7 linked regions of the Homo sapiens genome follow. The protein of the gene in region 1 purifies or fractionates together with the protein of each later gene. This does not show direct contact. Each region holds a gene or a part of one and is shown in the gene's direction. Other genes may lie near its edges. The genes, in order: MAP7, PARP4, LARP1B, MVP, BMP2K, TOP3A and GRHL1.

Region 1 (4,016 bases):
ATTCTAAATGGTCAGTTTGCCTATTCCATTATAGAAATGACACTACGGGAAAATTCATCATCACAGACCACAGCAGAAGTGTTCTTTAGTTAAAGCTCTACCTAGTCATCCAGAAAGCCAGTAAGTAAACCAAATAAAAATAGTTCACTGGGCTCAGAGTGGCAAGTTTTGCATGCAAAGATCGTGAAAATTGTAACCCTAACAATAAATCCAATACTGTTCTCGACTCTCTTGTGTGTCCAGTGCTGCTGCAGTCCTTGGAAGGCTTTTAAACTGTTCAGAGCTTGCTGGTTATCTTCAGCCAAGCCAGAGAGTGGGAGTGCAGTGCATTTTAGTGTAACCATGCGGAACTGGTCGCTCCTTGATTTTGTGCCGTATGTTTCCATTTGTGTAGGCTTTTTCCCCCCTCAGTATTTTGTTGCTTATCCTTTAGAGCGAAATTGGTTTTTCCTCGGCCAATAATCTGTTTCTTTAAAAAAAGAAAAATTCGTTACCTATTGCCTTTTTTTCTGGTCTTCCTGAGCAAGCCAGAAGTCACAAGGTCGTTTACTAAACGGAAACTAAGAAAAAGAAAAGCCACATCAGCCGGCACAAGCCTCTCTAACTTGTGTGCCCTGAGGCTCATCAGATGCGAAGTCCTGGCGACAAGATAGGGTCGCCCGCAGTGGCTTCCTAAAGCGCAGATCCAGGCCGGCTCCCAGCGTGGAATCCGACCCATGTACTTCGCCTCTCCACGTGGCATCAGATGCTCTGCCGGCTGTCACCGTGAACTCCAGCCCTCGCGGAGCCGACACTGACCTGGCTACTTCAGAGTTCGGAGGGAAATAGCGTCTCCGTACCCTCGCCCCACCTGGGCTGCTCCTCGGACCGCCGCTCGTCCCAGACTCCAGGAGGCGCCACCAGGCCTCGCTGACCCCGCTCCATATCTCCGGGAGCCCTCAGCTGGTCGGCCGCGGCGACCGGAAGCTCCGGACTGAGGTACTGGTTCCGCCCGCCGCTCTTCCAGCCGAGACTCGGCAGCGGCGGTCGGAGCGGCTGCCACGCCGCACCTGCCCGCGAGGGGGCGCGCCAGGCCCAGGCCGCAGCCGACTGCCGCGCTCTCTGTCCCCGCCCTCCGCCATCCCCGGACTGCGCTCACCTGTCTGGGCCGCTGGCCTGGGAGGCGGGGGCCGGCGGGAGCCAAGCCGAGGAAAGGGCGGAGCGGCTCTCCGGGCGCGTCATCGGAGCACCATGGCGGAGCTAGGAGCTGGCGGCGACGGCCACAGGGGCGGCGACGGCGCAGTGCGAAGCGAAACAGGTGACCGCACAGCGGGGATAGTGGGGGTCCCGTCGGGCAGGGGACGGCGAGCGGGGCCGGCGGGCTGGCACCGAAATCACCCGGCGCCGGCAGCCCCCTCCCCGCCCGCGCGGCCGCGGCCCGGAACAACCGGCCCTGCGCGCCGCGCACCCTGCTCCGAGAGCGCCTTCCCCCGCCCTTCGCCGCCGCGGCTCGGCCAGCCCGGCTCGGCCCCGGCCGGGGTTGCGGCCGCCCTCGGGCGCTCCACCGCGACTTTCCCGCAACAGGTGGAGGCGAGCCGGGGGAGGAAACGGAGAGACCCCGGCCGCTGCCCTCCCCGCCGCGGCCTCGGGTCTAATTCAGTTGAATGGGAAATCGTATCCCCCAGACCAAACCAGTGGCCAGAGAGTCGTCGGCCAGGTGCGACTGGCAGGACGAGCAGTTTCTGGGCACCTCCTCCCGCCTTCCCTGGTCGCCCCGGGTGCCGGGGGCTCCTCAGCGGGGTCGGTGTGGGGCAGGACCGCGGGGTGAGCGGCCCGCCCCCCAATCTGGTGCCCGCAGTGGCGACGACCGTCGTCCGAGGGGACCGAGCTCGGGAGGGCCGGGGCCCAGTGCAGCACGGTGGGGGTTTGCGAGTGCGGGCTTGACGGGATCAGACTTTCGTTGACTTGTCGGAGTTCTCAGAGTTTTTTGTTTTTAGTCTGTGCAGGAGCCCAAAGGAGGATTGTTGGCTCTGCAGCCCGGGATTTGGTGGTCAGGCCTCTGTGTTGAGGATACCCCTCCCCCACAACCTCCAGGGGCACACTTAGGGACAGGGGATCACGTCCCCAAGACCAGCAGCAAGGCTTCCCAAGACCAGCAGCAAGGCTTCCCAACCCCGCCCATCTCTCCATAGTATGAAGCCGATTTTTCTCCCTCGTGATTTTTTTTTCTCCAGAGGCTATCTTGCAAATCCGTCCCTCTCCACTGGTTCCCTCTTCTATTCTTGGCCAGTAAGCTGTTTCTATATCTTCCTACACTTGGGGATGGGGGCAGTGAGGCAGTTTCTTACTTTAAAAAGAAATTCAATTCTTAGACTCTCCAATTGCAAGCTGTTTTCCACTTCCATACGGTCACAATCGGAAGCATTTGTTTCCTAAATGTAAGAATCACTGTCTCCCCACCATCAAGTATGCTTATTTTAACGTGAAAGGTCCAGAGAGCTCTGAAACAGTATTTGCAAATTATGTATCTGCTATTGCTAGGAAGAGGTTGGGTACGTAAAGTCTAATGATTTAATCCCTTCAGCCAAGATACCTGAGGTTAAGACTGACAAAGTATCTTGAACTTGTTTAAGTCATGCTCCTTCCTGTAGGGAGTTTGTCTTAATGTGTTCGCAAGATTGGTAGATCATTATTTTGTTTTGGGGTGGAGAAGAGATGCCTTTGTAATTGCTTTCGGGAATTTGATGAGCTAGACGCTGGGACGGGGCTCCCCCAAGTGAGGGCCCCGGGAGAGGAGCATCCTCATTTGTAAATATACGGCATGATTTTCGTTCCTAACCCTGACCCAGTAACTGCATGTGAAACAACATTGTTCTAGCGAGCTAAGTGTTAGTTTGTGCTCAAAAATAAACTTTCTAGAATCTGCACGTGAACAACTTGTTCAGACATAAGTGAACTGACTACAAACTGTAGGATATTCAGTGCCTGAGCATGTTAAGGAATAGGCCGTGCTTCCAACAATTAATATACAAATCAACCATGTGCCTGTCAGTGTAATATTTTCTTTTATTAAAAAGGGAGTTAAATTGGCTGTTATCTCCTTCATAGAAAACATTTCTTCCACACTTTTGCCTAAAAACTTCATTTTCCAAAGGACATTTTTTATATATGGTCTTGAATAATTATACTTTATAATTTCACTGAAAACTTAATTCTGGCCCCGCATCTCTTTCCTATTTTTCTACCCCAAGATTACTATTAATGTTTTTAGTGTTCAGAAGCATTTGTGTCAGCAGGTGCCAAAGAAAGAAGGAAGGTGTAAATGTATTTTTTTGAATCTAGGTGGTAGTTATTTTGAGAGAACAAGTGAGATTGTTTGAATTTCAACAACTTAAGTTATTCCATATATTTAAAACACATGACCTATATCTGAATATGAGACTTTAATTTAGCACTTCATTCTGGTGAACATATTTCACATTATACACATCCAAATACTGCAAGTCTCATTTTTTTAAACAATCAGAAGTTTGTATGGAATTGTTGGGGGGGTGGGGGGGGGTGGTGGTGGTGGGTGGCCGTGGACAGAGAAACTATTACCATCAAGAGTTGAAAATTGCCACCTTAAATGGCAACATTTCTTGAGGGATTAATTTTATTTCTTTTTAGAACTCATTATTATGAGGTAGAGTCCACTCTTAAATAACTCTTAGTTTTTGGGTCTCTATACAAAGACTGGTCTAATTTTAGGGCACTTTAGATGAGAATATCAGGTTATTATAAAAATGATACCTGTAATGTGTTCAGAATTATATGTGTGAGTGTGTGTGTGTGTATATGTGTATCAAAGATGAATTGACAGTGGTGGCGTGTGGCCTATGAAATGAGACCGTTCTTAAGCATATTGAAAGCTATTATATAAACCCAACATTTAAAAACCCTATTTCTGTGGGTATATATTCTCAAAGTTAGTCAAATCACATTCTTTGTGGCGAAAACATTTATTTTTCTTGAGGATGAAAAGTTCTTCCAATATA
Region 2 (3,999 bases), on another chromosome or scaffold:
CAGTGGTTCAACTAATTTACATTCCCACTGACAGTGTATAAGCATTTCCTTTTCAATAAAGCCTTGCCAGCATCTGTTGTTCCTTGACTTTTTAATAATAACCATTCTGACTGGTGTAAGATGGTATCTCATTGCAGTTTTAATTTGCACTTTTCTGATAATTAGTTATGCTGGGCTTTTTTTCATGCTTGTTGACCATTTGCACATCTTCTATTGCATATTCTCTATTTATTGAGACTTTGTTCTCCTGGTTGTTTCTTTCAGTTATTTTTCTATGTTTCCTTTCACTTTTTGTCCATGTTTAAGACAGTTTATTTGAAGTATTTGTCTAATAATTCCTATGTCTGTGCTTCCTCAGCTCAGGGACAATTTCTGTTCATTTCTTTTTTCCTTTGAATTGGCCATTTTTTCGCCTTTTTTTTTGCATGCCTCATAATTTTTTGTTGAAGATTGGACATTTTGAGCATTACGATGTGGTAACTCTAGGAATCAGTCTCTCTCCTCCCCCAGAATCTCTTGTTGTTTCTTAGACAACCCTATAGAGTAGGTTGTAATGATGAAACTTGGTAAATTACCTTGTCCCCAGCCCCCTTGGTAATAAATTGTGGAGTCAGGATTCAACCCCATACCCTTTCCACTGTATTCTCTACTCTATCCTTTCTATTCTCATTTTATTCAGTATCCTAAAAATCTGAATCTTCCCCATTGCTTTATTCCCATTTCAGTGAATCTCAGATCTGTATCTCCAGCCCCCTGCCTCTCTTGAATGGCAGATAAATATATTTCCAACTAGTTACACTGTCACGAATTTCAAACGCAGGAAGGCTTAAAGTAAATTTATTATCTCACTCTCCTGTTTCCACGAACTTTCCCGAAATTTTCTTCTTTCCCGGCCTTGTGAATCCCTTCCATTTCTCAGTTAAAGGACAGCACCATCCACCCACCTCTCTCAAAGCCGAGCTTTGTATTAATCCTCATTGACAAAATCCCTCCTGAAATATGAAACTGAAAGCCCTGAACCCTCCGGCTGATCTTGGAAGAGAAACCCCGCCAGAGGCCGGGGACCCGCTCCCCACCTGGCGGACCCGATTCCGGGCGCGTTCCGGCTATCGTCCCTGCTTGGGACGCTGCGCCCGCCTGGTGCGGGGCGGGGTTCCGGCGCAGTGGCGCCCGCCCAGCCCCGGGGGCAGGGAGAGCCTAGATTACGGAAGTACCGCGAGCAAGGAGCGCGGAATCGGGGAGCGTCCGGAGCTAGCTGGATCCTCTAGGCAGGTGCGTGGGCGCTGCGGGGTGGGGGGCTGCAAAGGTCCCTGTAGTCCTAGCCAGGAAGTGGCCCGCGTACTACTTTCCCGCCAGTGGCTGCACCCTTGCCCTGCGCGGCGTTGGCGCTGTGGGCCTGACGGCGCTGCTAGGCTCGGGAGTGGACTAGCTAGTGCAGCCAGCGCCCTCGGGGAGGGATATTGCGGTCGTTCCGCTCTGCCCCGCGGCGCAGCCCTGGTGACGAGAAACCGGGTGCGGTGGGGGGCGCCCACCGGAGCCGACAGTCACACCAAGTCTCCGCACCCCGTGCGGTGCGGTTCGCAGTAGCACGCGTTGTTTCTTGTTTCCAGTATGCCAAACGGCCTTCTTTCCTAAAGTTAGGTTTCGAATTGTGCAAAAAGTAAGGTGGTTTGGTGAGTAATCAGGAAGTACTATCTGACCTCGTGAGTCATTGGGAACACCGTGATAGAAACAATGTGTTTGTTGAGGTCCAAAGTTGAAAACCTCTAACTCAGTTAAGTAATTCCTGCTAGGAGGGCCGAATGGTTCACCCAGGGATCGAGTTGGTAGATCACAGGTTCTAGAAAACTAAGGCGCTGCTAAATATTCAAGCCCAAGCACTTTCAATTCTGGACTGCTGGATGACAACAATTATATGACAATATCCAAGCATAGTGCTATGATAAAGGGGAAGTTCGCTCTGAGATGTGCGTGTTGCAGACTCATTACATCTGACTTTATCATTTATTAAGTAAACATTAGGTCTTGTTTGTGTGCGTAGAGCTACTGTATATCATGTAGGAGTGAAATAAAAGTAGTACCTTTGTTGTTTAAGGGTTTAATAAACCCATTAGGGAGGTGCATTACTGATGCCATTTGAGTCCAAAATGCAAATAGTGTCAGAAGGCTTTTCTGTAATCCTGGGCTTTAATGGATACGTGAGAGTTTTTAGTAAGCAAGCTTTTATTGAATGCCCACTGTATATCAAAAGTGATCTTAGCGTGTGCTGACTCACACACTTCGGAAGGCGGAGGCTGTAGAATCAAGACTGCCCAGAAAGGGACTCCTCAGGGTTTTCCGAGAGGAGGAAATGCCAGTGGTAAAGACGAAGACCTGTGAAGCAGGAAGCCACTTGATTCCACCTACACCAATGGTTTATGGAGCAGCCAAGAGTTTGTGAGGAGGCGCGCTGAGGGTTTCTTAGGAATCGGGGCTGTTCCCTGCTGTCTTTGGGTGGAAGACACTCTGTGAATGTTATTTGGGGAAGAAGCTGGGAAGGGGGACAGGCTGGAGTGACTGTGCAGATTTGCCTTAGAGAATAACCAGCCCCTAGCCCAGTGTCCGCCACATCTCATATGTACGTAATCAGCGCTGATGAAAACATGAACTAACTCTGTGTTTAGAGAACACTTTGAAACAAGGAAGAACTAGTGGCGCATGTCGGTTAGGCGCTGTTAACCCAGAAGAGGGCTGGCATTTTACAGAGACTAGAGATGAATCTGTGGAAAGAGAGAAGTCAAGACCTGACTTGAGATTTCACGAAACCCAAAGTGCGCCTTTCCATACCTCCCACGCAGCCGCAGGTGCTAAGAACAGACCGCAGATTTATGTTTAAAATGTTTTTACTCTGGGCCGGGCGTGGCAGCTCACACCTGTAACCCCAGCACTCTGGGAGGCTGAGGCAGGAGGATGGCTTGAGCCCAGGAGTTTGTGACCAGCCTTGGCAACATAGTAAGAACCCTGTCTCTACCAAAATTAGCTGGGCATGGTGGTGCAGGCCTGTGGTCCCAGCTACTAAGTAGGCCGGGTGAAAGGATTGCTGGGAGGGAGGTCGAGGTTGCAGTGAGCTGTGACAGTGACCACACCACTGCACTCCAGCTTGGGAGACAGAGCCAGACCCTGTCTCAAATAAAATAAAATGTTTATACTTTGATTTCACAACTATGTGTATGTACTTAATGCCACTGAACTGTACACACAGTTTTAAAAACTGTACCACAATTTTTAAAAGGCTAAAAAATGTTTATACTCCTTGATTCAGTAATTCCATTTCTGGCCATCAACTCTAGGGAAACTATGACAGAGATGTGGCAAAAAAATATATGTACAAGCATTTTAATTAAAGTGTATTTCTAATAGTGAACACTTTTTTTTTTTTTTTTTTGAGACGGAGTCTCGCTCTGTCGCCCAGGCTGGAGTGCAGTGGCGGGATCTCCGCTCACTGCAAGCTCCGCCTCCCGGGTTCACGCCATTCCCCTGCCTCAGCCTCCCAAGTAGCTGGGACTACAGGCACCCGCCACTACGCCCGGCTAATTTTTTGTATTTTTAGTAGAGACGGGGTTTCACCGTTTTAGCCGGGATGGCCTCGATCTCCTGACCTCGTGATCCGCCCGCCTCGGCCTCCCAAAATGCTGGGATTACAGGTGTGAGCCACCGCGCCCGGCCAATAGTGAACACTTTTAAGTAACCAAGTATCTGATGACTTGGGGAAGGATGAAATAAACGCAAAGCTTATGTAACCACTAAAAACACCTTCAAAGAATATTTAGTGACATGGGGAGGATATCACTAAAAGCTAAATAAGCTGTGAAAGTGAAAGTCCTATTTAAAAAGTAAAGAGCAACTGGCTATAACATTAAATATAGAATATTAATAATTTAGAAAATACAATGATACAAGAAATAATAACACCAAAAAAATTAAAATATCAACAGTGGGGGCTAGGTGTGGTGGCTCATG
Region 3 (3,500 bases), on another chromosome or scaffold:
CATTTAATAGGTTCTTAGTAGATATTTATTGAGGACATTAATGTGCTAAACAAACAACTCAAACTGTATAAATAATATGGAAACGAAGCATTGTTATTTTGCTTTTTTCCCCCTTTTTTGAAAATCATTAAGATTAGCTGATTATTAGCAGGAATTTTTTTTTATAAGAAAGAAGAAAATTAATTAAAAAAAGAAGAAGTCTAGAGCAAATCTCTTAGAGTGCCAGTGATCTGCAAAGCACTATGGTATGTTTTGTCCTTCAGAGGGGTTGCAGAGGTGATTTATTGCTCGTTGCTTTGTGATGCTTTTTTTAAAATAAAAATAGAGACAGAATCTTGCTCTGTTACCTAGGATGGTCTCAAACTTCTGGCCTCAAGCAGTCCTCCTACCTCAGCCTTGTAAAGTGCTGGGATTACAGGCATGAGCCACCTCACCCAGCCTGTGTTTCTTAAAAACCATTTTGTGTTTATACTAGATATTTTCAGAATAATTAACTGATAGTTTTTCCATTTGAAAACTTTGGGAAAATATGTTTTTGACTGGTTACTAGAAAAGAAGGATTAGTTAGTTTCATGAAAAGAAATGCTAGGGAGTTTATCATGCTCTCAAAACCTTGAAATCTGTCTTGTTAGTGATACACATTTGATTATTTTACATTGTTCTTACTAGCTATATTGTCTCTAAAAGATAAAAAGTGTGTATGTTCTTCTGCACACCTGTGGTATACTAATAGTTATTTTGGGGTTATAAGTGATTTTTCAGTTTTTTTCCCCAGAGTATTTCTTTTTATTGGAGCAGTATATGTAGAGATCAACAACAATGGAAAATGTTTAATTTACCTAATGAAGGACATCTTGTCTTTGTTGCTTCCAAGTTTTGGGAATTATGAATAAAGCTGCTATAAACATCTATGTAAAGGTTTTAGTGTGGACATATTTTTAAATCCCTTAGATAAATACTAAGGAGCATGATTGCTGGATTGTATAATAAGAATATATTTAGTTTTGTAAGAAACTGCCAAACTGTTTTCCAAAGTGGCCCTATCATTTTGCATTCTCACCAGTAATGTTTCTTTTTAACCTTGGTAATGTCTTGTTTTGAAGTCAGCCTTGTCTGATATTTATATAATTATGCCAACTTTCTTTAGATGAGTGTTTGCCAGTGTATCTTTTTCTACCTTTTTACTTTTAAGCAATCTCTTTGTTTTAAAGTGGGTTTAATGTAGGCAGCATATATTTGGGTCTTTCTTTGCTTTTTATAACCCAGTCTGATAATGTGTTGTTTAATTAGTATGTTTAGACCATCCACATTTAGTGTAGTTATTGATGTGGTTGGATTTAAATCTATCATTTATTTTTCTCATCCATTCTTTTTTTTTTTTTTTTCTTTTGAGACTGAGTCTCACTCTGTCTCCCATTCTGGAGTGCAATGGCATGATCTTGGCTCACTTCAACTTCCGGCTCCCAGGTTCAGGTGAGGACTCAACCTCCTGAGTAGCTGGGATTACAGGTGCCTGGCACCACACCCAGCTAATTTTTGTATTTTTAGTAGAGATGGGGTTTCACCAGGTTGGCCAGGCTGGTCTCCAACTGCTGACCTCAGGTGATCCACCTGTCTTGGCCTCCTCAGGTGCTGGGATTACAGGCATGAGCCACACTGCGCCCAGCTGTCTCATCTATTCTTCATTCTTTTTTCTCTTTTTCTGCTTTCTTTTGGATTGAGTTTTTATAATGATCCTATTTTATCTCTACTATTGACTTATTAGTTATGTCTCTTTTTTATTTTTTACTGATCCTCTAGGATTTACAGGTATACTTTGTTTTGTTGTGCTTCATAGATACTGTTTTTCACAAAGTGAAGGTTTGTGGCACCCCTGTGTTGAGCAAGTTTATCAATGCCCTTTATCTAACAGATGTACTCAATTCATGTCTCTGTGTCACCTTTTGGTAATTCTTGCAATATTTCAAACTTTATTATTATTATGATGTCCTTTTTTTTTTTTTTTTTTTTTTGAGACGAAGTCTCGCTCTGTCGCCCAGGCTGGAGTGCAGGGGTGTGATCTCAGCTCACTGCAAGCTCTGCCTCCTGGGTTCACGCCATTCTCCTGCCTCAGCCTCCTGAGTAGCTGGGACTACAGGTGCCCGCCACCACGCCTGGCTAACTTTTTTTTTTGTATTTTTTTAGTAGAGACGGGGTTTCACCGTGTTAGCCAGGATGGTCTCAATCTCCTGATCTCGTGATCTGCCCGCCTTGGCCTCCCAAAGTGCTGGGATTACAGGCATGAGCCACTGCACCCGGCCTTTTTTTTTTTTTTTTTTTTGAGACAGAGTCTCACTCTGTTGCACAGGCTGGAGTTCTGTGGCACAATCATGGCCCACTGCAACCGTAACCTCCCAGACTCAAGTGATCCTCCCACTTCAGCCTCCTGAGTAGCTGGAACTACAGTTGCATGCCACCATATCCAGCTAATTTTTGTATTTTTTATAGAGATGGGGTCTCTGCTGTCTGGGCTGGTCTTGAATTCCTGGACTCAAGCAGTTCTCCTATCTCGGCCTTCCAAAGTGCTGTGATTACAGACATGAACCACCATGCCCAGCTACTATTTTGTATTTTATGGTGATCTGTGATTAGTGATCTTTGATGTTAACTATTGTAATTGTTTTGGTACACCATGAACCATGCCAGGATAAGACAGTGAACTTAATAAATATTGTATGTTTTCTGGCTGCTCCACTGACTGGCCATTTCTCCATCTCTCCCCCTCTTCTTGGGCATCCCTGTACCCTGAGAGACAAAAATGTTGAAATTAGACCAACTAATAACCCTACAGTGGCCCCTAATTGTTCAAGTGAAATTAAGAGTCAAAATTCTTCAAAATTAGGAATGTCATCATTAATGAGGAAGGCACGTTGAAAGCCCCAAGACAGGCTGAAAACTAGATCTCTTGTGTCAAACAGCCAAAATATGAAGGCAAAGTTTTTGAGGGAAATTAAAAGTGCTACTCCAGTGAATACACAAATGATAAGAAAGTGAAACAGTTTTATTGATGATAGGGATAGAGTTTGAGTGGTCTGGATAAAAGATCAAACCACCCCCAATATTCCCTTAAGCCAAAGCATAATCCAGAGCAAGGCCCTGACTCTCTTCAATTCTCTGAAGACTGAAAGAGGCGAGGGAGGTGCAGAAGAAAAGTTGGAAGCTAGCAGAAGTTGGTTAATGAGGTTTAAGAAGCTGTCTCCATAATATAAAAGTGCAAGGTGAAGGAGCAAGTGCTGATGGGGAAGGTGCAGCAAGTTTTAAGGAAGATCTAGCTAAGATAATAAAAGTGGCTACATTTCTGCAGGTCTAGATCTGAAAAAAAAGTGTGGCTACCTTAAACAATAGATTTTCAGTGTAGACAAAACAGCCTTCTATTGGGAGAAGAAGCCATCTAGGACTTTCATAGTTAGGAAGGAGCAGTCAATGTTTGGCTTCAGAGCTTCAAGGGATGGGGCTGACTC
Region 4 (3,500 bases), on another chromosome or scaffold:
GCTTCGTTATAGGCCAGCACAGTGGCTCATACGTGTAATCCCAGCACTTTGGGAGGCCGAGGCAGGTGGATCACTTGAGGTCAGGAGTTCGAGACTAGCCTGGCCAACGTGGGGAAACCCTGTCTCTACTAAAAATACAAAAATTAGCCAGGTGTGGTGGCACACACCTGTAATTCCAGTTACTCGGGAGGCTGAGGCACGAGAATCACTTGAACCCTGGAGATCAAGCCTGTGGTGAGCCGAGATCGTGCCACTGCACTCTAGCCTGGGCGATAGAGTGAGACTCTCAGAAAAAAAAAAAATCTCCATTATAATCTTACGGGACCACCATGTGCAGTCTGTAATGGACTGAACTATCATGCAGTGACTATATTTCACATCTTTAATATCCTGGTGTTCACTTTGCTTTGTCATCTTTTGTAAAATAAACCTCTTGGTTTACCCTCTCCCACCCCCTACTTCATCCCCTCTCTGAACTATATGTGGGAATACCAGCAGTTGCCAAACTCATTCTGTAAAGGGGGCTGGATGGTAGATACTCCAGGCTCCGTGAGTCATTGTTTCTGTGGAAGTTCTTCAACTCTGCTGTTATGTCAGGAAAGCAGCTTGGGCACTACGTAAACAAGTGAGTACTGCCATGCTCCTGGAATAGTTTATCTGCAAAAACAGGAGGCAGAAAAAGTAGAAATAGGCCAGGCATGGTGGCTTACATGTGTAATCCCAGCACTTTACGAGTCCAAAGCGGGTGGATCGCTTGAGGTCAGGAGTTAGAAACCATCCTGGCCAACATGGCAAAACCCTTTCTCTACTAAAAATACAAAAAAATTAGCTGGGCATGGTGTCAGGCACCTGTAATCCCAGCTTCTCTGGAGGCTGAGGCAGGAGAATTGCTTGAACCCGGGAGGCGGAGGTTGCAGTGAGCCGAGATCACACCACTGCACTCCAGCCTGGGTGACAGAGCAAGACTGTCTCAAAAAAAAAAAAAAATTAGAAATAACCCAAATGTACATATATAATGAATGGATAAAAAATTGTAGCATATCCATACAATGGAATATCATTCAGCCATAAGAAAGAAATGGCAGGCCAGGCGCAACAGCTCATGACTATAATCCCAGTGCTTTGGGAGGCCGAGGCAGGAGGATTGCTTGAAGCCAGGAGTTTGAGACCAGCCTGGGTAACATAGTGAGACCCCATTTTTACAAAAACTTTTAAAAATTGACCAGGCATGGTGGCACACCTGTAGTCCCAGCTATTTGGGAGGCTAAAGTGGGAAAATCGCTTGACCCCAGGAAGTGGAGTGTATAGTGAGCTATGATTGTGCCACTGTACTCCAGCCTGAGGCAGTAGAGTGAGATCCTGTCTCTAGGAAAAACAAAAAATAATGACATACGTGCTACAACATGGATAAAATTGAAAATGTTATGCTAAGTGAAAGAAGCCAGCTGGACGCAGTGGCTCACGCCTGTAATCCTAACACTTTAGGAGGCTGAGGTGGGCACATCACCTGAGGTCAGGAGTTCAAGACCAGCCTGGCCAACATGGTGAAGCCCCGTCTCTGTTAAAATACAAAAATTAGCTAGCATGATGGCGGGTGCCTGTAATCCCAGCTACTGCTCGGGAGGCTGAGACAGGAGAATCTCTTGAACCTGGAAGACAGTAGTTGCAGTGAGCCGAGATCCCACCACTGCACTCCAGCCTGGGCTGCTGAGCCGAGACTCCATCTCAAAAAAAGAAAAAGAAAAAAGCCAGACATCAAAGACCACATATTGCATGATTCCATTTATGTGAAATGTCCAGAATAGGTAAACACATAAAGAAAATAGACTAGTGGTGGGTGGGGTAGGTGGGGAGTGGCAGTAACTTCTAGGTACAGGATTTCTTTTCAGGGTGATGACGAAAATACTCTAGACTTAACATAGCAGTGATGGTTGGACAACTTTGAGTATACTAAAACAACTGAATTGTGAATTGTATACTCTAGATGGGAAAATTTCATATGTGGATTATATCTCAAAATTTTTTTAAGAAACAGGCGGTGCTGGGCGTGGTGGCTCACATCTATAATCCCAGCACTTTGGAAAGCTGAGGTGGGTAGATCGCTTGAGTCTAGGACTTTGAGACCAGCTTAGGCAGCATGGCAACACCCCATCATCTACGAAGCACACAAAAATTAGCTGGGTGTGGTGATGCGCATCTGTAGTCCCAGCTCCTTGGGAGGCTGAGGTGGGAGGATTGCTTGAGCCTGGAAGGTTGAGGCTGCAGAGAGCTGAGATCATGCCACTGCACTATCCAGCCTGGGCAAGAGAGGAAGACTATCTCAAAAAAAAAAAAAAAAAAAAAAAAAGGCAGAATCCAGATTTGGCCTGAAAACCAGAGTTTGTCAAGCCCTAGGTTACACCATCTCTAGAAAACAAAGCCTGGGAGAAAGAAGAAAAAACAGGTTGATTTTTAATGGTTTAGCTTGCGTGGATCCAGGTCCTGACAGTTATGGAATCTTTCAAGGACACATTTGACCAGATGAGATTTGGCAGGCGTTTGTGTAGAGCCTCACAGTCCAGACAGTGCCTCACCGTATTATGATGTGGGGGTGGGGGCGGGCTTCTGGTGCTCTTGTCCTCCACACAGGCCTGAAACAGCACAGGACTGGGGAGGTACCATTGGAAGCACCCGCAACCCTAAAGGCACTGACCCTAACCTCACGTCTCCCCACTAGGGAGAGAAGTCTTTTTTCCTCCAGCCAGGAGAGCAGCTGGAACAAGGCATCCAGGATGTGTATGTGCTGTCGGAGCAGCAGGGGCTGCTGCTGAGGGCCCTGCAGCCCCTGGAGGAGGGGGAGGATGAGGAGAAGGTCTCACACCAGGCTGGGGACCACTGGCTCATCCGCGGACCCCTGGAGTATGTGCCATCTGCCAAAGTGGAGGTGGTGGAGGAGCGCCAGGCCATCCCTCTAGACGAGAACGAGGGCATCTATGTGCAGGATGTCAAGACCGGAAAGGTAATGGCTGGGAGTGAGCAGCAGTGCTGCCACGTGGCCTTGGCCTTGGTGGCGGCTTCCTCTGGGTGTGTGGAAGAGGTGGGCAGGGACTTCAGCAGCATGGAGAGCCATATCAGGTGGGCTGTCTGGTTGGGGGAGGGCACTACGTGGAGTGTTTGCCATCCTTCTGCCTTAAATGTCTCATTTGAAATGTTAGAACCAACCAGGTGCGGTAGCTCACATCTGTAATCTCAGCACTTTGGGAGGCCGAGGCGGGCGGATCACCTGAGGTCAGGAGTTCAAGACTAGCCTGGCCAACATGGGAAACCCTGTCTCTACTAAAAGTACAAACATTAGTCAGGCGTGGTGGTGGTCTGAGTAGTCCCAGATACTTGGGAGGCTGAGACAGGAGAATTGCTTGAACTGGGAAGCGGAGGTTGCAGTGAGCCGAGATCACACCACTGCACTTCAGCCAGGGTGACAGAGTGAGACTCTGTCAAAAAAAAATATTAGCATGTCCACT
Region 5 (3,500 bases), on another chromosome or scaffold:
AGGAGAGAGCAGAGTATAGGTCAAAGGCCAGTTTAAAGGTCCAGATCAGGCAGGGTGCGGTGGCTCATGCCTGTAATCCAAGCACTTTGGGTGACCAGGGCAGGCGGATCACGAGGTCAGGAGATCAAGACCATCCTAGCCAACATGGTGAAACCTCATCTCTACTAAAAATATAAAAATTATCTAGGTGTGGTGGTGCGCGCCTGTAATCCCAGCTACTTGGGAGGCTGAGGCAGGAGAATGGCTTGAACTTGGGAGGCAGAGATTGCAGCGAGCTGAGATCATGCCACTGCACTCCAGCCTGGCAACAGAGCGAGACTCCATCTCACACACACACACACACACACACACAAAAAGTTCAGATCAGTATTTGCCGAACTCTTTGTCATTTATCTACTCTAGTTAAAATTTTTTGCTTTATTCACATAGTGCTTTTTTCTTTAATAAATTAGTAACATTATTGTGTATAATAAAATTAAAACATATTATACATTTTAAACAAATAAGATCCACTAAAATATAAAGTATGAAATGTAAATAGTAATCTAATAAATTTGCTAAGTCCCCTAGTGATAAGAATGGAATAATTTTCCTCATTAAAAATCAGATATTCTGCTTGATAATTGCTTAAAGATACTGATGAGGCTATTGTACTAATTAGATGATTGCTTTTTTCCACTTTTGATGCTAACTAGCATAAAAAATGTCAAATCTAGTTTATTTAGTTGGAAAATAGAAAAGATATTAACTGTCTTCTCTGACGTAGCATATATATTGTGTATACTTCATATTCTAAAAGTCTGTCAGCTCCTGGAAGCAAAGTTATGTCACTGTTGAGAATGGGATGATGAATTGGAAATCTGTCTAAACTTCTGATTAGTTAAAAAGAAAGTTGGATATCCAAGGATTTGAGGCATACACTGGCATGCAAGGTGCTGATGCCTGTAATGTATATTAATTACTATAGCACTGTCTGCTTTATTCTCATTTGTAGTGATGCTATTCGACAAATCACAGGTTTGATACATTAGACACTTTTCTTTTAATTTCTGTGTAACTATTAAAAAATAAGTTATCACAAAAATCATCTTGCATTCCCCAGGTTAGGAAATATTGGGTTGCATATCTGGGAAAGTGCATAAGACTTGTTTTACTCCACTCCTATGAAATTTATGTATTTAAGGATGTGTTAGAAAAAATTATACACTCAGCCACTAAAGGTTAGAAATGTGGAACTTCATGTGGGAACATTGCTCCAGCCACACTTGGTACGTCAATGCTACTTCATTAATATTATACCTATTTAACATCAGATTGTATGTTGAGTATAGTATCTTCTGTAACAATTTAAAAAGAGCTCTAAACTAATGTTCCTGCTTATGACAAAGTCAGTGGAAGAAGAGAATTGGGGTTAAATGTTTGTCTCTCAGTGGATAAGGGCTATTTGAGTAGAATATAAGAAACCAAGTAGTAGTTCCTTAGACAGAGGGAAAGAGTCACTATCTTTGTTGGAATAATTATTTCCTTTTCTTTTCTACTATCTTTTGCTAAACTTTCTACTCTTCCACCATGTTAATTTATCTTTAGTATGAATATCAGAGAGTATTACTGTGTTATATTCCAATAATAGTTAAAATAAACATCATCTATGCATACGTTATCTTCTTATGATATAATTGCCCTGTTATATTAGTTATCTGTTGATGCCTAATAAATTATCTCAAAACTTAATGGTTTAAAACAGCAGTTAACATTTATTATCTTACATACTTTCTTTGGATCAGAAATTTAGGGGTGGCTTAACAGGGTGGTTGTGTCTGGTAAGGCTGGGTCGGCTGTCCTCTGAAGGCTTGGCTGGTGATAAAGGATGTAATTTACAAGATAGTTCACTCACATGGCTTTGGGCAGGAGGCTTCAGTCCCCTGCCACATGGATTTCTTCAAAAGACTGCTTGAGTTTTCTCTTTGCCAAGGCAAAAATTATTTTGAACAAGGAATTATTGATTCTGGTTTCTCCCTCAATAAGTGATCCAAGAGACAGAGCAAGGAGGAATCTGAAATGTCTTTTTAGACCTAGTCTCAGCAGTCATGGGCTGCTGCTTGTGCCATATTTCATTTGTTAGAATTGAGTCACTAGATCTAGCTCATGTTCAAGGGCAGTGAAATTCGGTTTCACCCTTCGAAGGGAGGAATGTCAGATAACTTGTAGACATTTTTTAATACCTGTTTAAACTAGGTTAAGGTGATAACCCTATTGAGTTACAGTCTGCCAATAGGAATCCATAAATTTATTTTGGGAATAGGAAGAGGGTGATTCATATAGGGAATCCGAAAGTTCTAAAAGGAATGATTGACAGACAGGAGGGGGGATGCCCATCTCTCTTTGAGTTTTACCCACTGTGATCTGTTTTTTTTTTTCCTTCAATTTTCTGGGTAAAAACATCTGATCTGTGTTTTAAGGAGAGATGGGACTCTGTCACACAGAGGCAGGCTCAGACTGGCAGTTAATGCATCCAGAATGGACTTTAAACTGAATTGTTTTTTAAATTAAGATACCTAAGTTCTATTTACTAAGCAAGTCTATTTACTTGTAGGTAACTTACTATTTATTTTCCTCTGTTATATGCTAGCCTTCAGTAAGTATTTAAGTATCCTATTCTTGGCTCAGATATGCTGAAGGGGCTTGGACTAAGGGATTAAATAGACGACTTTTGCCTTTCTTTTCTCTTCTAAGACCTGTTTGGTGGCAATGGCAATGAGCTCTCAACGGTTAGGTAAATTTAGGGGATCAGTTAAGACTTGTGAAATTGAGATACTACTTTGAACATTAGGATTCTCCCTTCATTACTACTGTTAAGAGGATTTGCATATGAATTATGAAAGGAACTTAATAGCTTTCTTACATTGTCTCGTTCTTATGCTATACAGTCATGCATTGCATAACAATGGGGACATGTTCTAAGAAATTGCATCATTAGGCAATTTTATTGTTGTATGAACATCATAGAGTGCATTTACACAAACTTAGATGGTATAGCCTACTACACATCTAGGCTTTATTATATAGCTTATTGCTCTTACGCTACAAACCTGTATAGCATGTTACTATATTTAGTACTATAGACAATTGTAACAGAATGGTAAGTATTTTTGTATCTAAACATAGAAAAGGTAAAATAAAAATATTGTATAAAGGATTAAAAATGGTACATCTGTATAGGGCACTTACCATGAATGGAGCTTAGAGGACTGGAAGTTTTTCTGGGTGGGTCAATGAGTGAGTCGTGAGTGAACGTGAAGGCCTAGGACATTACTGTACACTATTATAGACTTGACTTTATAAACACTGCATTCTTAGAACACACTAAATTTATATAAAATTTTTTTCTTCTTCAATAATAAATTAACCTTAGTTTACTGTGACTTTTTTACTTTATAAACTTTGAAAATTTAAAAACATTTTGACTCTTTGGTTATAACACAAAACACAAACATGTACAA
Region 6 (3,500 bases), on another chromosome or scaffold:
ATGGGATTTACCACCTTTTTGGCCTACTGCTGCTCCATGACAACAGGGGCCAGGGCCACTTCTTCCCCTTGGCCATCTTTCCTTTTGGCATCTGGGGCGGCTAGAGGAGAGAGGCTGCTGAAATGTCTCATCTTCAAGGAATCCTTCCCTCACCACCTGTTCCCCCACACTAGGTCAGAGACCCTTACTGACATGCTGTCATAGCACTCTATTCTACTTGAAAGGCATCTACTAGTTACAGTTAAATAATGGGATGTGCGATCATTTATTTGATTTTTGTCACTGCCTCTCCTTGGACTCTAAACTCCAAAGGACAGTGATTATATTTTGTTAATTGCTATGTCCTAACGCCTAATATGGTGTCTGGAATGCAGGAAACTTTCAATAAATATTAATACTTGGGCTGAGCGCAGCGGCTCATGCCTGTAATCCCAGCAGTTGGGGAGGCTCAAGCGGGCAGACCACCTGAGGTCGTGAGTTCAAGACCAGCCTGGCCAACATGGCAAAACCCCATCTCTACTAAAAATACAAAAATTAGCCAGGTGTGGTGGCGGGGTCCTGTAATCCCAGCTACTCACGAGGCTGAGGCAGGAGAATCGCTTCAACCCGGGAAGTGGAGCTTGCAGTGAGCCTAGATTGCGCCATTACATTACAGCCTGGGCGACAGAGTGAGACTCCATCTCAAAAAAAAATTAGGCCAGGCATGGTGGCTCATACCTGTAATCCCAGCACTCTGGGAGGCTGAGGTGGGCGGATCATGAGGTCAAGAGATTGAGACCATCCTGGCTAACACGGTGAAACCCTGTCTCTACTAAAAATACAAAAAATTAGCCGGGCATGCTGGCAGACGCCTGTAGTCCCAGCTACTCGGGAGGCTGAGGCAGCAGAATGGCATGAACCCGGGAGGTGGAGCTTGCAGTGAGCCGAGATTGTGCCACTGCACTCCAGCCTGGGCAACAGAGTGAGACTCTGTCTCAAAAAAAAAAAAAAAAATTCATAGTTGTTGAATGCATGTTTGAGCTGAGCCTGAAAGTTTTACCAGGCAGTAGAAACTGTAAAGAACAACCTAGTGGCTTGAAACTGCTTGGCATATTCAGAAACAGTGAGAAGTTAGGGGTGTGGTGTGGTGGGAAGAGACACCGATGAGTTAAGCAAGAGCAGCAGTTGAGTGCAGATCATAAGAATCTTAGAGAGCCATGTAGGTTGAGTGGTAAAATGCACAGAAAATTGACCATTTTAATCATTTTGAAGTATATAGTTCAGTGGAATTTTGTCCACTAAATGTGCCACCATCATCATTATCTAGTTCCAGAAGGTTTTTTTTCACCCCAAGAGGAAGCCTCATATCCATTAAGCAGTCACTCCCCTTACCCTCTCCTCAGCCCCTCACAACCACGAATCTGCCTTCTTTCCCCATGGATTTGCCTGTTCTGGGCATTTCCTATAAGTGGACCCATATCTTACATGCTCTTTTGTGTCAGGTTTCTTTCACTTAACATAATCTTGAAGTCCATCCATGTTGTACCATGTATTAATATCAGTTCTTCATTCCTTTTTTTTGGTTTTTGAGAAGGAGTCTCTCTCACTGTCGCTCAGGCTGGAGTGCAGTGATGAGATCTCGGCTCATTGTAACCACCGCCTCCCAGGTTCAAGCGATTCTCCTGCCTCAGCCTCCCAAGTAGCTGGGATTACAGGCACCCACCACCACGCCCAGCTAATTTTTTGTATTTTTAGTAGAGACAGGGTTTCACTATGTTGGCCAGGCTGGTCTCAAACTCCTGACCTCATGATCCGCCCACCTCAGCCTCCCAAAGTGCTGGAATTACAGGCATGAGCCATTGCACCTGGCCTCTTCATTCCTTTTTATGGCTGAATAATATTCTATCATATGGATAGATCATATTTCATTTTACCATACATCAGTTGATGGACATTTGGGTTGTTTTCATCTTTTGACTATTGTGAATAGAACTTCTATAGACATTCGCTGGGCGTGGTGGCTCACACCTGTAATCCCAGCACTTTGGGAGGCCGAGGCAGGTGGATCACGAGGTCAGGAGATTGAGAACATTCTGGCTAACACGGTGAAACCCCATCTCTACTAAAAATACAAAAAAATTAGCCGGGCGTGGTGGCAGGTGCCTGTAGTCCCAGCTACTCGGGAGGCTGAGGCAGGAGAATGGTGTGAACCCGGGAGGTGGAGCTTGCAGTGAGCCGAGATCACGCCACTGGACTCCAGCCTGGGCGACAGAGCCAGACTCCATCTCAAAAAAAAAAAAAAAAAAGAACTTCTATAGACTTTCATGTACAAGTTTTTGTTTGAATGTGTTTTTTTGTTTGTTTTTTGTTTTTTGAGACAGTCTCGCTCTGTCACCCAGGCTAGAGTGCAGTGGCGCCATCTCCACTCACTGCAACGTCCACCTCCTGGGCTCAAGTGATTCTCCTGCCTCAGCCTCCCCAAGTAACTGGGATTACAGGCACACACCACCACACCTGGCCAATTGTTGTATTTTTAGTAGAGATGGGGTTTCACCATGTTGGCCAGGCTGGTCTCGGACTCCTGACCTAAAGTGATCCAACTGTCTCAGCCTCCCAAAGTGTATTTGAATGCGTTTTTAATTCTTTTGGGTAAATTTGTAGGAGTGGAATTGCTGTGACATGTGATAACTCTGTAACTTTTTGAGGAAACACCAACATTTTCCAGAGTGGCCAAAGCATTTTACATTTCCACTGACAATGTCCAATTTCTCCACATCCTCAACAACACTTGTTATTTTACTTGTTTTTTTTATTATTCTATTTAATTATTATCCTAATGGGTATGGAGTGGTACCTCATCATGGTTTTGATTTGTGTTTTCCTAATGATTAATAACATTGAGCATCTTTTCATATGCTTGTTGGCCATTTCTTATCTTCTTTGGAGCAATGTTGGTTATATTTTTGGTATCATAACCAAGAAATCATTGCCAAATTCAGGATCAGAAAGAATTATACAAAGGAATCCATTGTTTTAAACGTAATTTATATTTTTTACTTATTTTTGTTTTATAGAGAGAAGGACTTTCAAAATTCAACAAGATCTATGAATTTGATTATCATCTGTATGGCCAGGTAGGTGCTAAAATATTTCTAAAATATTTCAATCATAAGCAAGAGAAAGTAGTCAGCCTCGTCATATGTAGAATATGTCGCTGTCTTAAGAATAACAACTGTTAACAACCTAAAGGTTCCTGGATATGGGGTGATCACTTTATAATTTATGAGGAGTTCTCTTTTTAATAAAATATGGTCCCATCTCAGCTCTTCATTACAAAAAAAAAAAGCTAATATACAATAGTTTGAGGAAAATTTAACTGATGCAAGAGGCGTCAGTTATACACCATATCATTAGAATGGTGATTGTATTCCTGTGACTTTTGGCTTTGAAGAGCTTATATTTATGTTTATTTCTTCCCAATCAGGTTTTTAAAAATGTCTTTAATAGAAGCTCCTCCCTCT
Region 7 (4,204 bases), on another chromosome or scaffold:
CTCGGCCTGCATCATGGCAATGGCCTCCTACCTGGTCCCCACCACGCAGCAGCAGAGAACTATTTTAAAATGTGAGACCCTGTCACTACCCTGCTCCAAGCCCCTCCAAGGCGTCCCCACCTAGCCCAGAGGGAAAGCCACAGTCCTTACGGAAGCCGGCAAGGCCCTGCTCAATCCGCTCCCCTGCGCCCACTATCTCTGACCGCAGCTCCCGCCTCCCTGTGCCCCACCAGCCACCCGGGTCTCCTCAAGGGTCACAAAACACACCAGGGTCCCTGCCTCAGGTACAGTCCCACCTTCGTGGCCCCTCATCTCCTTCAAGCCTGAAAGCCTCGCTCCTCCCCGCCTCCCCAGGGCCTGCCTGCTTTACCTTCCAACCAGCCACACCATTTACTTGTTTTTGTATTGCCCGTTACCCCAACTAGGAAGGCGAGGAGTTGTGTCTGTTCTGTTGACTGCCCTGTCCCCGGCGTCTGGGGCCGCGCCTGTCCGAGGGTCAGGTCCGACGCTGGGCATGTGGGGACTCAGTGAGCGGACCCTGGGAAAGACGGCAGCTCGGGAAGGACAAGTGGGGGCCGTCGCGGTGGAGTGGTGCCCGGGGCCGGCCCGGGGCGCGCGACTGCACGGGCAGCGTGGGGCGGCCGCGCGGGGAAGTGGCGCCCGGGAGGCTGCGGGGCACAGACATCGCGGAGCCCCAGGGACTGCCGCCGAGGGGACCGCGGGAGCTGCGAGGGCAAGAAATCCTAAAAGCGCGCGGCCGCGGTGGGCCAGGAGAAGGGACATTCCGGAGACGGCTCTCGGGGGAAGCCACGGGACTCGGGCGTGACAGCCTGCGAGAACCGAGAGGTGAGACGCGCGACCGGGGAGCGCGGCGACCGGCAGAGGCGCCCCCGCCGGGCGAGCGCAGGGGCAGCGCGGGGCGCTGGGGCCGGAACAGCGGGCAATGTGGGCACGGGGCGCGGAGGCCTGAGTGAGCGAAGAAGGAGGCGGCTGTACGGCCGGGGCTCGTCGCGAAGGGGATGGCCGGGGACGGCGGGGACGGCGGGGGCGGCGGGGGCGGTGGCGGGGCGCGAGCGGGGGCGCTCTCGGTGCGCGCGGAGGTTGGCGGGTGCGCGCCGCAGCCGCAGCGCTCCCTCTCCTGTCAGGGCAGGCGCGTACGGCCGCGAGTCGGGCGCGCAGCCCCGGGAGCGCAGTCCCGGGCGCAACCTCGCGGAACGCGCGGCCCCCGCCCCCCGCCCCGCGCCGCTCGTCCCCGTCAGCCCCGCCCCGGCGCTCTTCTCGCCGACCAATCAGGAGGCGCGACCGGCCTCCCAGCCCCGAGGCCTCGCCCCCAGCCGGCGCATCGCCAGCCAATGAGCGGCCGAGCCCGGCGCCCAGTGCGCGCAGCCCGCGCGGAGCCGGCTCAGAGCGAGAAAAGCAAACCCAACCCGTCGGGGCCGCCGCTCCGGACCCGCAGCCGCCGCCGCCGCCTCCTCCCCCCGGATCGGGTGTACTGTCCCAACCCGAAAGTCCAGTTCTGCGGCCCGGCAGCGGCGAGCGGGCGCGATGACACAGGAGTACGACAAGTGAGTGAGGCGCAGGAGTCCGGCCGCCGCGGGGGGGCCGCGCTGAGGGGCCGCACCTGCAGCGAGCGAGCCGGGCGCAGACCCGAGGCCGCGCGGGCGGGCGGGCGCGGGGCGCGAGCCGGGGGCCGCTGTCCACTCCACGCCGCCACGGCCTTTGCCCCTTAGCCCTGCCGTGCTCTTTGTTCGGTCGGAGCCTCGGGAGGAGAGACCCTGTCCTCGGGGAAACTCGACACCGGAGGGGCCACCCTCCTCCCCTCCTCCGCGGCCAGGTTGGGTCCCCTCGGGCGCGCACCTTGGGGTCCGGGCCCCCGGCGCGGTCGGGTGCGGCGCGAGGTCGGGGCGCAGCCAACGCCCCCGGGCCTCCCCGCCCCCCTCTCCTGCCCGGTCGGCCTCGGGAGCCTGGTGGGGCTCGCGCCGCGTCGGGACAGGTGGACTTCTCCAGGTAATCTGTGGTCTCAGGCTCGTCACTCGGCGACCTGCTGGAACCTCCAAAACAGAAATGTAGGGAAAGGTTGAAGTGCCCCGATGTCCGGGCGTTTTCTTTTCCCTGGCTGGCGGCATGAGTGGGAAAACGGCTGTAGGAGTTATTTTGCCACTTGCATCATTGATGGTAATTACAGATTACCGTGTTTTTAGTGCTCGAGAGAATCAAGAGGATGAAACTTTGAAATCCGGGTGTTAAACGAGAAAGTACTGTACAAGCTAATATGCTTTTTAGAGTGTGTGATTTAAAAGCGTATTTCGACAAATGTGAGGTGGTAGTGTAATAAGGCATGGGGGATTAACTGGGCGAGGGAGTTTTCTGTATTTTCTTTGCAGCTTTTCTGAAAATATAAAATTGTCCTAAAAATTTTAAAAACTTACTAAAGAAAAAACAGGGAAATCGCACCAGGCCAGTCAGTATATTTCAGATCAGGAAGTTTAAGGCAGATAGGTACCCCTCCCAGTTTCTTAGTTATTTGTGAAGGATCGGTTTTTGTCAGTGTGTTCTTTTTCTGGATGAGATAGATATTTTGTATGGAGTATCTTAAATGGATTACTCTTATGTTGTAGAATATGCAGTTAAATTATTGCCTGAAACATATTTCAGAAGTCTGAGAGATCGCAGACGCGGAGTTTAAGGCTCACCTGAAAGTGATGATGAGCCTTCGGCGACTGAAGCCTACTTCCTGACTGTCATGAGGAAGTGGACTAAGAAAGGCAACTGGTTTTGTGTTTATTTCTTGACGTATAGTTTAGATAAGGCAAATTTTCCAAAGCTAACATTTTGGCCTTAGGCAGGCTTTGGAAATATGAAACACCTTCAGGGTGATTCCAAACATAAAGCCATTTCTTTCTCTGTTTTCTATTGCTTGTACAAATTTGGGATGTGGGTGGGAGAAGAAGGGAAGTTGAAAACTAGCATTAAGGGAATTGAACAGCCAAGTGCTGTCATAGTCTTCTGGAAGTAGCTATTACGCTATTAATTATAGCTTAGCAGTACATCAGTCAATCAGTCCATGGCACCAGCCGTTCAGTAGCTGTTGTACTCTGGTCCTGATGGCTCAGGGAATGCCACTTTGTATATTTCTTTATTTTCTTTAAAGTTGAGATTTGTGTAAGCAATCTTCTCCATTTTTAGACAAATGATCTGCTGGCTTTGAACAGTCTTTTATGTTTGTTTTGTGTTAAAATAGTATACCACCTCAAGACTTTCTTACCAAATGTAACGTTTATGCCAAAACGTGAGTAAAAACATTGGCTTTCAAATAACACTTCATTTTGACTGAGGATACATTGTTGGATTTTTTTCCCCTTTTTTGAAGATGTTCTCCTTTTTCTAAATCTGTATCTGTTCTTAAAGGCCCTGGGTGACTCCCAAACGCTAACCTTTGTTGATTACTTGAAAAGATAATCAGTCTTTCTACATTCACTTTTAAAATAGGCAGGTCACCTTTAGGCCATTTACATATTTCATTTGTGTGTTGCAATGAGAGCCAGTCCTTCAATTTGCTTGTTAGAATTGTAATAATTCAGAGGAGTTCCAAACATTTAAAATTTATTTTTCTCCTTGAAAATAAACTGCTTTGTTTTGCTAGAGTCAGTGTTCCATTTTTTCTCTTTATTGACTTATTAAATAGTACCAACCGAACAGTTGTTGAGACTGTTTACATTTCAAGTTTTTGGAATTAGTAATGTTTGCTTTAATCTTTTAAATTAAATCTTCTGTAAGGTTTCACTAAGATCGCCATTGATTTTTTTGGATTTTTCCCACCAAACTACAGTGTTAAAATGAAACAGTTCTTGTGCAATGTGGAAAACTAGCAAAGATTTTTTAAAAGCCAGATTTTCCCACCTATTTTTTTTAAAACTTTTTGTTCAGTGGCTTCATTTATTGTTGGATATCCTTAAGTGTTTATCTCTAAGATAAACAGTTAACTCCCATGCCAGAAAATTATGCCTCTTTATTGATTTACAGTCCCCTTTGGCCACATTCCATGCTCAATCTGCTGGTAATCAGTAGAATATTCTGGCTTTCTCATATACCCTGGAGGATTGCGTGAAGGATCCCTTTTTCTTTCTGCTGCTTCTCCCCTCCCCACTGTGTTCAGGTAGGAATTTTTAAGGCATGGCAGCCACAGTAGAAAGAGGGAATAACA

Evidence for each region.
Region 2: the proteins of MAP7 (region 1) and PARP4 purify together in Homo sapiens (affinity purification with mass spectrometry; one large-scale study listed by BioGRID and IntAct). This does not show direct contact.
Region 3: the proteins of MAP7 (region 1) and LARP1B purify together in Homo sapiens (affinity purification with mass spectrometry; one large-scale study listed by BioGRID and IntAct). This does not show direct contact.
Region 4: the proteins of MAP7 (region 1) and MVP purify together in Homo sapiens (affinity purification with mass spectrometry; one large-scale study listed by BioGRID and IntAct). This does not show direct contact.
Region 5: the proteins of MAP7 (region 1) and BMP2K purify together in Homo sapiens (affinity purification with mass spectrometry; one large-scale study listed by BioGRID and IntAct). This does not show direct contact.
Region 6: the proteins of MAP7 (region 1) and TOP3A purify together in Homo sapiens (affinity purification with mass spectrometry; one large-scale study listed by BioGRID and IntAct). This does not show direct contact.
Region 7: the proteins of MAP7 (region 1) and GRHL1 purify together in Homo sapiens (co-immunoprecipitation; one large-scale study listed by IntAct). This does not show direct contact.

The regions. Positions count from the first base shown.
Region 1 is NC_000006.12:136,547,623-136,551,638, reverse strand, and holds the start of MAP7 (ensconsin), read left to right. Parts: upstream 1-1,216; 5' UTR 1,217-1,230; coding exon 1,231-1,297; intron 1,298-4,016. UniProt on the Homo sapiens protein: Microtubule-stabilizing protein that may play an important role during reorganization of microtubules during polarization and differentiation of epithelial cells. Associates with microtubules in a dynamic manner.
Region 2 is NC_000013.11:24,509,979-24,513,977, reverse strand, and holds the start of PARP4 (protein mono-ADP-ribosyltransferase PARP4), read left to right. Parts: upstream 1-1,199; 5' UTR 1,200-1,272; exon of another isoform or gene 1,273-1,455; intron 1,456-3,999. UniProt on the Homo sapiens protein: Mono-ADP-ribosyltransferase that mediates mono-ADP-ribosylation of target proteins.
Region 3 is NC_000004.12:128,179,812-128,183,311, forward strand, and holds part of LARP1B (la-related protein 1B), read left to right. Parts: intron 1-3,500.
Region 4 is NC_000016.10:29,837,462-29,840,961, forward strand, and holds part of MVP (major vault protein), read left to right. Parts: intron 1-2,716; coding exon 2,717-2,998; intron 2,999-3,500. UniProt on the Homo sapiens protein: Required for normal vault structure. Vaults are multi-subunit structures that may act as scaffolds for proteins involved in signal transduction. Vaults may also play a role in nucleo-cytoplasmic transport.
Region 5 is NC_000004.12:78,873,850-78,877,349, forward strand, and holds part of BMP2K (BMP-2-inducible protein kinase), read left to right. Parts: intron 1-3,500. UniProt on the Homo sapiens protein: May be involved in osteoblast differentiation.
Region 6 is NC_000017.11:18,308,495-18,311,994, reverse strand, and holds part of TOP3A (DNA topoisomerase 3-alpha), read left to right. Parts: intron 1-3,053; coding exon 3,054-3,113; intron 3,114-3,500. UniProt on the Homo sapiens protein: Releases the supercoiling and torsional tension of DNA introduced during the DNA replication and transcription by transiently cleaving and rejoining one strand of the DNA duplex.
Region 7 is NC_000002.12:9,950,289-9,954,492, forward strand, and holds the start of GRHL1 (grainyhead-like protein 1 homolog), read left to right. Parts: upstream 1-1,404; 5' UTR 1,405-1,545; coding exon 1,546-1,565; intron 1,566-1,623; exon of another isoform or gene 1,624-2,007; intron 2,008-2,013; exon of another isoform or gene 2,014-2,175; intron 2,176-4,204. UniProt on the Homo sapiens protein: Transcription factor involved in epithelial development. Binds directly to the consensus DNA sequence 5'-AACCGGTT-3'.